3 linked regions of the Homo sapiens genome follow. The protein of the gene in region 3 interacts with the protein of the main gene of each other region in a pairwise test. Each region holds a gene or a part of one and is shown on either strand. Other genes may lie near its edges.

Region 1 (3,654 bases), on a different chromosome or scaffold from region 3:
CTGGCAGGAACTTGCTCTGCACCCTGGAATATACTCTGAAGGCTGGGAGCAGTCAGAGGCCTCAGACAAATAATCATAAGAGTTAACATTTCCTGAGCGCTTACTACATGACAGGTACTGTGCCAAGGGCATTTAAAGCATTATATCACTTTTCACAGCAGTTCCATGAGGTAAATCTATCATCCCCATTTTACAGATGAGGCAACTGAGGCTAAAGATAAAGTACTTTGCCCAAGATCATACAGCCAGGAAAGAGTGGAGCCAAGATTTGGACCCAGGCTGGGCAGTTGCCATGCACATGCCCCTTACCTCTCTACTATGTTGCCTTCCCCCGAAAAGAGTGGTTACCTGTCTCTACCACCCCCAGCCTGGAAATGTGACCGGCACCCATGTTGGCTCTCACATCCTCATATTCTCTCCTAATGCAACTTCTTGCTTGGGAAATAGATATTGCTGAAGCAGGGTTGATTCAGGAAGGGCTTCTGTGATGGGCAGGGCGGAGGACTAGGCTGGGGACGGGTGCTGGGAGATTGCCGCCTGTTTCTGTCTTGCTGACAACATTTTTCCCCTCTCCGCACTGGACAGAGCCTCTTCTGTTCCTCTCCATCTGACTTCCTGCTTCCTCCTCTGGCTTTGGAGTGCCTGGCTCCTCTGACTACCTCTTCTTAAGCCCCCATCTCTTCTCTCTCACTCCGCTTGGTAAGAGGAACAAGGGTTCTGGGGTCTGGGCAAAGGGAAACATCTCCTGGCTCTAGCAAATGGGCCCCGTGAGAGTTGGGTGCACCCCTGAAAAGGTAAATCCACCCCGGGGAGCTCTACCAGAGGCATTACCACTCCCTAGCAGGGCATCTGGAAGTGGCAGTTATTTTCTTAAAACTTAAATGATAGTAAGCATACAGAATAGCGCACAGATCATGAGCTTGGTTTCCACAAGGTGAATACACTCATGTAACCAGTATCAGATCAGGAGATAGAATATTCCCAACATCCCATGTAACCAGTACCAGATCAAGAAGTAAAACATTCCCAGCAGCCCAGAGGTTCCTCTCCAGGCTCCCTTCTAGTCACCGTCCCTAGAGTAGAGGGCTGGGGCATTTTTGTTTGTCACAATCACTTCTGGGTTCTACTGGCATTGAGTTGGCAGAGTCTAGTGTCTGCAATGCATGGGACAGTCCTATGGTATAAAGAACTGTCCTGCCCAGATGCACTGTTGAGAAACACTGTACCTGCCAGGTCTGACCAGTGATGGGCTGCAGTGTGGCAAAGGCCTGGAGGACAGGGGTGAAGCTGCGTCTGTGGGTCAGAGTGAGGAGGGGCCTTCACTGCAATGCTGTTGCCACCCCCAGGCCTCCGGAATGCCCCCCGCTGCTGGGCAGTGATCCAGCCCCTGCTGTGTGCCGTATACATGCCCAAGTGTGAGAATGACCGGGTGGAGCTGCCCAGCCGTACCCTCTGCCAGGCCACCCGAGGCCCCTGTGCCATCGTGGAGAGGGAGCGGGGCTGGCCTGACTTCCTGCGCTGCACTCCTGACCGCTTCCCTGAAGGCTGCACGGTGAGTGCTCTGTGAGACAAGGTCCAGGCTCTCTGGGTTGGGCAGGACCGGGTATAGGGCAGGGTCCAGTGGGGAGCAGGGGAGCCCAGAGCTTTGTCTCCTGGAGACCCTGAGCCTACAGCCATGGGGTCAACAGGACACAAACTCAAACTGCAGCTCACTGGCTGGATCCGTCTATTAGGGATTCTCTATTTATTTATCAATGATCACATGTTCAGCAAAATGTTTTGAGCACTGGCTGTTGGGTGTTGTGGTGTTACGGGCATCACGGATGACAGGAGCCTATCAGGAAGTTTCTCATGTATGTTGGGAGTTAAGGCGCGAGCGTGTGAAACAGCTAGAGCCACCAAGACAGGGGACGTGAGCTAGTTCTGGGTGGTGCAGGAGAGGTCTTCAATGAAAATAATAACAGTAATAATGATGGTAATAATACTAATTAGTCCTGTTTACTATATGCCAAATGCCATTATAATAAGCTCATGCCTGTAATCCCAGCACTTTGGGAGGTCGAGGTGGGCAGATCACCTGAAGTCAGGAGTTCCAGACCAGCCTGGCCAACGTGGCAAAACCCTGTCTCTACTAAAAATACAAACATAAGCCTGATGTCATGGTGTGCGCCTGTAGTCCCAGCTACTCGGGAGGCTGAGACACGAGAATCGCTTGAACCCGGGAGGTGGAAGTTGCAGTGAGCTGAGATCGTGCCACTGAACTCCAGCCTGGGCTACAGAGTGAGACTCTGTCTCAAAATAAATAAATAAATAAATAGGCTGGCCAGACACAGTGGCTCATGCCTGTTATCCCCACCACTTTGGAAGGCTGAGGCGGGTGGATCACTTGATGAGGTCAGAAGTTCAAGACCAGCCTGACCAACATGGTGAAACTCCGTCTCTACTAAAAATACAAAAAATTAGCCAGACATGGTGGTGGGCACCTGTATTCTCAGCTACTTGGGAGGCTGAGGCAGTAGAATCGCTTGAACCCGGGAGGTGGAGGTTGCAGTGAGCCAAGATTGTGCCATTGCACTGCAGCCTGGGCGACAGAGCCAGACTCTGTCTCTCTCTTTCTATATATATAATATATGTTTATTCATTTAACCCTTAAACCATACCATAAGGTAAGTACTACCATCTTAGAAATGGGGAAACTGGCCGGGCGCAGTGGCTCACGCCTGTAATCCCAGCACTTTGGGAGGCCGAGGTGGGTGGATCATGAGGTCAGGAGTTCAAGACCAGCCTGGCCAACCTGGTGAAACCCCGTCTAAAATACAAAATTTAGCCGGGTGTGGTGGTGGGCGCCTGTAGTCCCAGCTACTCGGGAGTCTGAGGCAGGAGAATTGCCCGGGAGGCAGAGGTTGCAGTGAGCTGAGATCACGCCACTGCACTCCAGCCTGGGCGACAGAGCGAGACTGTCTAAAAAAAGAAAGAAAAAAAGAAAGAAAGAAGTGGGGAAACTGAGGTACAGAGAGGCCAAATAATTTGCCAAGCCAGCCCTGGGATTCAGGTCCTGGAAGTGTATCTCCAGCCACCCTGCCATGCTACCTAGATACCTTTCCCTAAACAAGAGGCTCGTCCCTGAGCTGCCTTGACACCGTCTTTTCCCATCCCTGGTGCCAGAATGAGGTGCAGAACATCAAGTTCAACAGTTCAGGCCAGTGCGAAGTGCCCTTGGTTCGGACAGACAACCCCAAGAGCTGGTACGAGGACGTGGAGGGCTGCGGCATCCAGTGCCAGAACCCGCTCTTCACAGAGGCTGAGCACCAGGACATGCACAGCTACATCGCGGCCTTCGGGGCCGTCACGGGCCTCTGCACGCTCTTCACCCTGGTCAGCCGCGGGAGGGCAGGCCCGGGGGGCCCTCAGCCTGGAACGTGGGAAGAGAGCCAGAGGGAAGGGGGGCAAAGAGGTCTTGGTGGGGGTCCCCAGGGAAGGGTCATGATCAGAAGGGTCTGGGGCTCAGTTAAGGGTGTCTGTGTCAGCAGAATAACCCTAACCTCACAGAATGGCCCACTTCTCTCTTCTAGGCCACATTCGTGGCTGACTGGCGGAACTCGAATCGCTACCCTGCTGTTATTCTCTTCTACGTCAATGCGTGCTTCTTTGTGG
Region 2 (2,319 bases), on a different chromosome or scaffold from region 3:
ATTAACATCTGTCTTTCTGTTTCCAACCCAGTCTGGCATAGGTAGACCCTCCGGGATGCTTGTCATATTGAATTCCATGATTGAAAATAAATGGATAGTTTTCCAGATTCTATATATGAAGTCACTATATACCACATGTCTTAATCGGTTTTTGTGCTTCTTAACAAACAACCCCTAAAACTCAGTGGCTTATCACAGCAAACACAGACTTCTTGCTCATGTTATATGTGGCTGCAGCTCCCTGTGTCTTCTCATTCACCAGGGCGCACGGGCTGACGGGTGTGATCTGGAATGGGCCTTCCTGTGGCTGAGCAAGAGGCTCCGCTTGGATGAGGCAGATGTCACTTCTGCTCACATTCCAGCAGCAGAGCCAGTGGTGGAGGGCGTGGGGTGTGTGGCCTGTAGGGCGCACTGCAAGTCACACCACAAGGGCAGGTGTGTGTAATCACACAGGGGAAGAAGTGAAAAGTTGTGAACACAACACAATCTTCCACACCACAGTGTAAAAAAACAGCCAGTTGTTTTTAAATCTTTTATCAACATAGTTATAGCATTGATTTATTTTCCAAATCATAGTTGTTAAAAACAGTATTTACATTTCATCACCATCAACTTAACATTTTATGCATTCATTAGGATCATACAAATATATGAAGGTGAAAGTTCTGCTCTGTCCCCACTTCTTTCTGAAACCTTCTTTAGCCATGTGGCCTGAAAGTAGAGCCATAGTCCAGCTTGGGAGTCTAGTTCCCAAGTTGCCTGGTTCTAGAAGCCCAGTGTTTCTTGCTTGCATCAGATCAGAAACACACTGGGCAACATAAGAACATTCTTAACTTGGCTCGACTAAGAGGAAAGTCTTTGCTTACTTCAGGGAGCTTCTCCACCTTCCATTCTTTACCAATAGGGTTTAAAAGCTTTGATTAGAAGCCAACTTGATTTAGGAGTTCCCACTGGCAAAATAGGGAACAATATGAGCATCAAGGACATCTGCGAAGCACTGAAACACTCGAATGTGATTAAACGCATGACTTCATAATGATACAAAACAAAACACAAAAGGCTTTTGGCAGCAAGCCTGAGAGAATGGAGATCCAGCTGAGATGACAGCGATGGAGCGTATACTGTGATTCAAACGACATCATTACTTAGATGCTGCATGCACATAGGCTAATGTGCCCACAGATCACACACTTCCAACTCCTGCCAATCAACAACTATTGGGTTGACTCAGCAGTCTCCCAAACATACCACCTGCTCAAAATTCTTAAGCTCAAAGCTAGAATTATCTCTGTGACTAATACAGCATTTTCACGTTTGACATGATAGTAACTCAAACTAACTCTTTACCACATTTACAAGTTGCAGTTTTCAGCTTTAATTTTATTTTTACTATTTAAAAAAAGTCTGAACTCTATGCCTGTATTCAAAAATGAGGAACTGGAAGGTAGTTTGGAAAATACTGTTTTCCAACCCAGCTGGAGTCTCTCTCCTCTCAGCCTTCCTGCCTGGTAACGTAGACACCAAGATTCACACTGTGAATCACACATCTGTGAAGCCAGACGTGTGATTTCCAAAGCAGAGATCTGTCATTTCTGTCTCTAGGCTCCTTCTTTGTCCTGAAGACTGGCTTCAGGGGCTCTGCCAATTGACTTTCCTTTTCCACGACCATCGAGGAGTCCTTGTGTAGTCACTTTCACATTCTTTCCTGGTCTCACTCCTGGACCTCCACACACTGGTTTTTGGAGTGGGGCAATCCTACAGCCAAGAGCTATGTGAAAAAGGCTGTGGGGAAAAGAGAAGAGTGAGGGGAGTGGCAAGGCAGGGAAAAGCAAGCACAAAACAAACCAGCTCAGATCCAGACAAGAAGCTTTACTGGGTTCTGATGCAGCCTTCCTGGCTCTCTCCACTTAGTTGATTTCGGAAATAGTTCTGCAGTGGTTCCACACGATCCCCGTCCTTTGCTCCTGGTGAAGGAACTCATCATTCTCCACCCCCTTCTCATAATCACTACCTCCTGGAGAGATCAAGCAAGAGCCTATATATATTGCATATACATATATTAGCATATCATAGATAATGCATCTTTTATAAACAAAAATTTTCTGAATTTTTAGACAGGGGGATGTGGCCTAAGAAGCATCTGAACAATGGAGCATGATATTTCATAGATTTCAAATGTAAGGTGCATGGGTGCCATAGATAAACTGTAATAAAGCAAAAATATGTCATGCACTTATGCAAAAGAGAATCATCGGACTCCACCAAAACTCCCAGGTTATTGCAGTTCCCAAACTCTCCCTGACCTGGTGAACCCTTCAA
Region 3 (4,266 bases):
ATGTTCACACAAAAATCTGTACATGAATGTTTATAGCACCATTATCCATGATAGCTAAATGACCCAATCAACTCAAATGTCCCCCAACAGACAAATGGATAAACAAAATGTGCTATAATCATTCAATGGAATATTATTCAACCATAAAAAGGAATGAAGTACTGATATACACTACAACATGGATGAACCTTGAAGTAATTATGCTGAGTGAAAAAAACAGTCACAAAAGGGCAACTATTGTATGATTACATTTATATGAAATGCCTGCAATATGGAAATCTCTAGAGACAGAAAGTAGTGGTTGCTTAGGGCTGGCAGGGGGTGGGCATGAGGGTGGGAAGTTGAAATTGGGGGGTAAACGGGATAACAGCTAAAGAAACAGGTTTCTTGTGAAATGATGCAATGTTCTAAAATTGACTGGGGTGATGGTTGCACATATCTATGAATATACTAAATATACAGAAATATATACCACTTATATACTAAAATATGTGCTACTTATACTAAAACTCACTGAATCGTATACTTTAAATAGGTGGCTTTTATGGCATATGAATCATGCCTCAATAAGGCTACTTAAAAATAACGTCTTGTTTAAAATATCCTCACACATCCGAAGAGATCTTATTCTTTTGGTTGTAAGTATGAAATGATTACAACAACCAAAGCCAGAACTGGCTTTGGTATTTAAACTATTGAAAATGTTCCAGGTTAACATTTAAGACTATGAAAATCTTGAAAGTAGAAAAAATTAAAATGAAGGCATCAAGGAACTTCCGGAGGACATAAAATGCAGTGATTGTTTAAGATGTATTGGGGGCATTAAGTAATTAGATTCATAGGGGTGGAATGTAAGCAAGGAGAGTTAAAGTGCTCATATGAAAAGCCTCAGCCTGGAAGACCCCCTTCTTTACCAGCTTGCAGTGATTCTGAAAGAACAATATTTCTTCATGTGCACTGTTAACCTTATTTTTAAGGAAGATAAAAATACCTCCCCCCTCCCAATATGATTCACTCCAGTAACAAATAGGAAGTCAAGTAAATGATAAAGGGCCAAACAAAAAGAGATTTAAGGAAACACATAAAAAGCTAAACCAGTTCCCAGGAATGGCTACTGGGAAGTTTCAGCAATCAGCATGTGTTACTGCTTTTTACAGGCAGAGCATAAGATGATATGATCTGTGCATAGCTCACAATTCCACTACTGAGACATTTCAACCTGTGTCGTTGTCAGTCCAAATAAAGTCCGTTTCTGTGTTTGCCTTGTGCAATATGCCAGTTAATCTATCCTAGCTCATTGCAGAGCTCCTGGTATGTGTGGTCTGGGGAGTCCATACCTTCCCTGACTTGAAGAACCACCAACGCCAGCGATAAGGAAATGTCCGGGTGCATTAGGAATATTTTTGATCCTCAATAAATCTCTGCTTCTTCCTTGACCATTGCAAACAGTCCGGTTTGCCATCTAGCTGATTCTCGGTACCTCATACAGCACTGTGCTCCAGTTTCAAAGCAAAAATAGGGCTAATATATGGTGGTGGGTGAGGGGCGGGGGTGAGGGGTGCAAGAAGAAAACAAGCAAAGGTTGAACTGGCTTTTCCTACAGAGCCTCAGATTTCAAAATGACTGCCGTAGAAGCTAAAATGACCCAGATTTGGGGGACAAGGGGGGAAGAGGGTCGATATTCATTCCCCTGCGGGGTAGCTGTAGCTTGATTATGGGCGTAAGGAACTAGGGAAGACGGGGTCACCGACATGAAAAGAGAAATAACAGGGAATGGTCTTTAAGTACCACGCACCTCTCTCAGTGAATCACTGCAGTGTCAGCCCTGCACTGATTCCATGATTTGCCAAACAGGATGAGGTAAGGCACAAGCCTGGAGCCCCCTCCTCCTCCTCCTCCTCCCCCTCCTCCTCCTCCCCCCTCCCCCGCGCAGAAAGGCGCATCCCTCCGCGAGGTGCACCACGCAGCCCCCCGCGGCCCTGGCTGAGGGGTGACGTCACCCTTCTGCATTGAGCTTCAAGGACCGGCGGCAGCACTGGATAGATGGGGAGTAGAGTTGGGGCGCTATCTCTATCACCAAGTGGAGGGGACCCTCTGCCAGGGCGCTGCGGATTGTGCTCATGCAGTGACAGAACCACCAGATAGGGAGTGTAAGGATGCAGGGAGGTGGGAAAGGAATCCAAAGACTCATCTCTTGGGTCACCAAGAAACCTCAAAGATGCCCCCGGCTTATGTAAGACCCTCTCCCTTTCGTGCGCCTCCACGCGGTGACAACGCCTGCTCCCCATCGTGCGCTTGGGAGACTTCGGTCGCCCTTGCCCAGCCAGGCAGGCACGGTGCTTCTGGTGCCTCCCTCCCGCAGCCCCGTGGGGTCAGGAATAACTGGGAATCTGAGATTAAACCCCACGCTCCCGTGTCCTCTCCTAGCCCGCCACAGGTTAGCTCCAAGAGGCGCCGCGAACCGGCTGGTAGGGGAAGGGAGAGAAAGGTGTACAGCGAGGAAAACAGACGAATAAACCCGCAACTTTCCCCAGGAGCTGACCCTATCCCGGGAGATTATAAAAGAAACTAATGCATTAACATTTTTTTTTTGGAAGGTCGACAACCTGCAGTCACCGACACTCCGCAGCCCCTTGCAGCCTGCGCGGAGCGAGGTCTAGGGTTCCAGCAGCCCCGACCCGCACCCTGCCATCCTGCAGCCCCGACCCAGCACCCCGCGCCTGTCTCCTTAAAGAGGGGTCCCAGATTTGATTTTTGGTTTGGGTTTTCCTCCCCACTTCTTTTCTCAGAGCATCATCATACGGACCGATGGACAGCGACTCGGCCACCGGCCCGGCGTGGGCACTTACCCAGAAGACGAAGGAGTAGATGATGAGGAGGGTTTTGAGACAGGTTATCACAGGTTTGGTCTCCATTCTCCTCGATGCCATACTACAGAGCTCCGGCGGCGGCGGCGGCGGCGGCAGGCGGCGGGCGGGCGCGCGGGAGGGGGAAGAGGCGGGGCGGGGCGGGGCGGCGCGGGGCGGGGGCGCGTGCCGCGAGAGGCCTCGTGAGCGCGCAGGCGAGGCCGTGCGCGTGCGTGAGCGCGCACCGCGCGGGGCTCCTACTGAAAAAGCCGGGCCGGGCAGTGACTGCGCATGCGGGAAACGCCGCCCGCGTTCGCAATACTGCGCAGGCTTAGACCCCCAGCGGAGGAGGGAGGCGAGGCCAGGCGAGGCCAGGCGAGGCGACACGGGGCGCGGCAGGACAGTGGGGAGGGAATGGGAGAATTTAGAGGCCGGGTCAGAGGTCACGGGAACCTCTCCCAGTCCGCCCTGGCATTTAGATTTCTGCTTTGTACACAGTTGGGCGTTACATTTGCAGGTATGCCTGCACCTGGCTATGGGAAGTTTATGGGTGCCCCGCTGCCCATCAGTCACGTTTCTGCATTTTGACACCCCCCAGGGCCTTCTCACATGGAAATGGCCCCGTAGTCATGTCCTTGGCAACCAGCAGGCCTTGTTTGTGCCAGGAACAGACAGGTGGCCAGAGATACAGCTGGAGGGATGGGCAGGAACGCCGGAGCTCAGACAGACCCCAAATCCTCGCCACCACAGGTATCTGCAGGCTCCTCCATTTTTCAGATTTGTCTTACATTTTGAAATAATAAAACGAAATGACAAGAAAGGTCTGTATGAGGCGTCATTCTTGCTGCGCATACAATGTTTAACAGAATACAGAAAAATGTTTAATATGCCTGAGAATCATTTGCAGCGCGCTAACAAGTACAGTCCACCTCCCTCCTGTAAAGGAAAGCTGCATTGAGGTCAAAAAATAATGTTCACAACCAATTTGGAGTTCCTCAAAAAGTTGAACAGAGTTTGCATATGATCTAGCAACTCCATTCCTGGGTATTTACCCAAGAGAAATGAAAATATATGCCCACACAAAACCATATACATGAATGTTTATAGCGGCATTATTCACAATAGCCAAAAATTGGAAACAACTCAAATATCCGTCAGCTGATGAGTGGATGACCAAAATTCGGTGCCTCCATACAACGGAAAATTATTCGGCCACAAAAAAGAATGAAGTACTACTGGTAAATGCTGCAACGTGGATGAACCTTGAAAATATGCTAAGCGAAAGACGCCAGACACAAAAGACCACATATTGAATGATTCATGTATAGGAAATATCCAAAATAGACAAATCCATAGAGACAAAAGAGATTAGTGGTTGCAGCGAGTGGGAGGCAGGAATGAGGTGACTTTTAATGGGTAA

What was found.
Region 1: the proteins of TSPAN7 (region 3) and SMO interact in a two-hybrid assay, tested with the Homo sapiens proteins (one large-scale study listed by BioGRID and IntAct).
Region 2: the proteins of TSPAN7 (region 3) and CCR2 interact in a two-hybrid assay, tested with the Homo sapiens proteins (one large-scale study listed by BioGRID and IntAct).

The regions. Positions count from the first base shown.
Region 1 is NC_000007.14:129,202,038-129,205,691, forward strand, and holds part of SMO (protein smoothened precursor), read left to right. Parts: intron 1-585; exon of another isoform or gene 586-699; intron 700-1,346; coding exon 1,347-1,552; intron 1,553-3,165; coding exon 3,166-3,375; intron 3,376-3,572; coding exon 3,573-3,654. UniProt on the Homo sapiens protein: G protein-coupled receptor which associates with the patched protein (PTCH) to transduce hedgehog protein signaling. Binding of sonic hedgehog (SHH) to its receptor patched prevents inhibition of smoothened (SMO) by patched.
Region 2 is NC_000003.12:46,359,140-46,361,458, reverse strand, and holds the end of CCR2 (C-C chemokine receptor type 2), read right to left. Parts: 3' UTR 1,783-2,319; coding exon of another isoform or gene 1,599-1,782; 3' UTR 519-1,598; downstream 1-518. UniProt on the Homo sapiens protein: Key functional receptor for CCL2 but can also bind CCL7, and CCL12. Also transduces signaling mediated by CCL13.
Region 3 is NC_000023.11:38,560,211-38,564,476, reverse strand, and holds the start of TSPAN7 (tetraspanin-7), read right to left. Parts: upstream 2,936-4,266; 5' UTR 2,931-2,935; coding exon 2,850-2,930; intron 1-2,849. UniProt on the Homo sapiens protein: May be involved in cell proliferation and cell motility.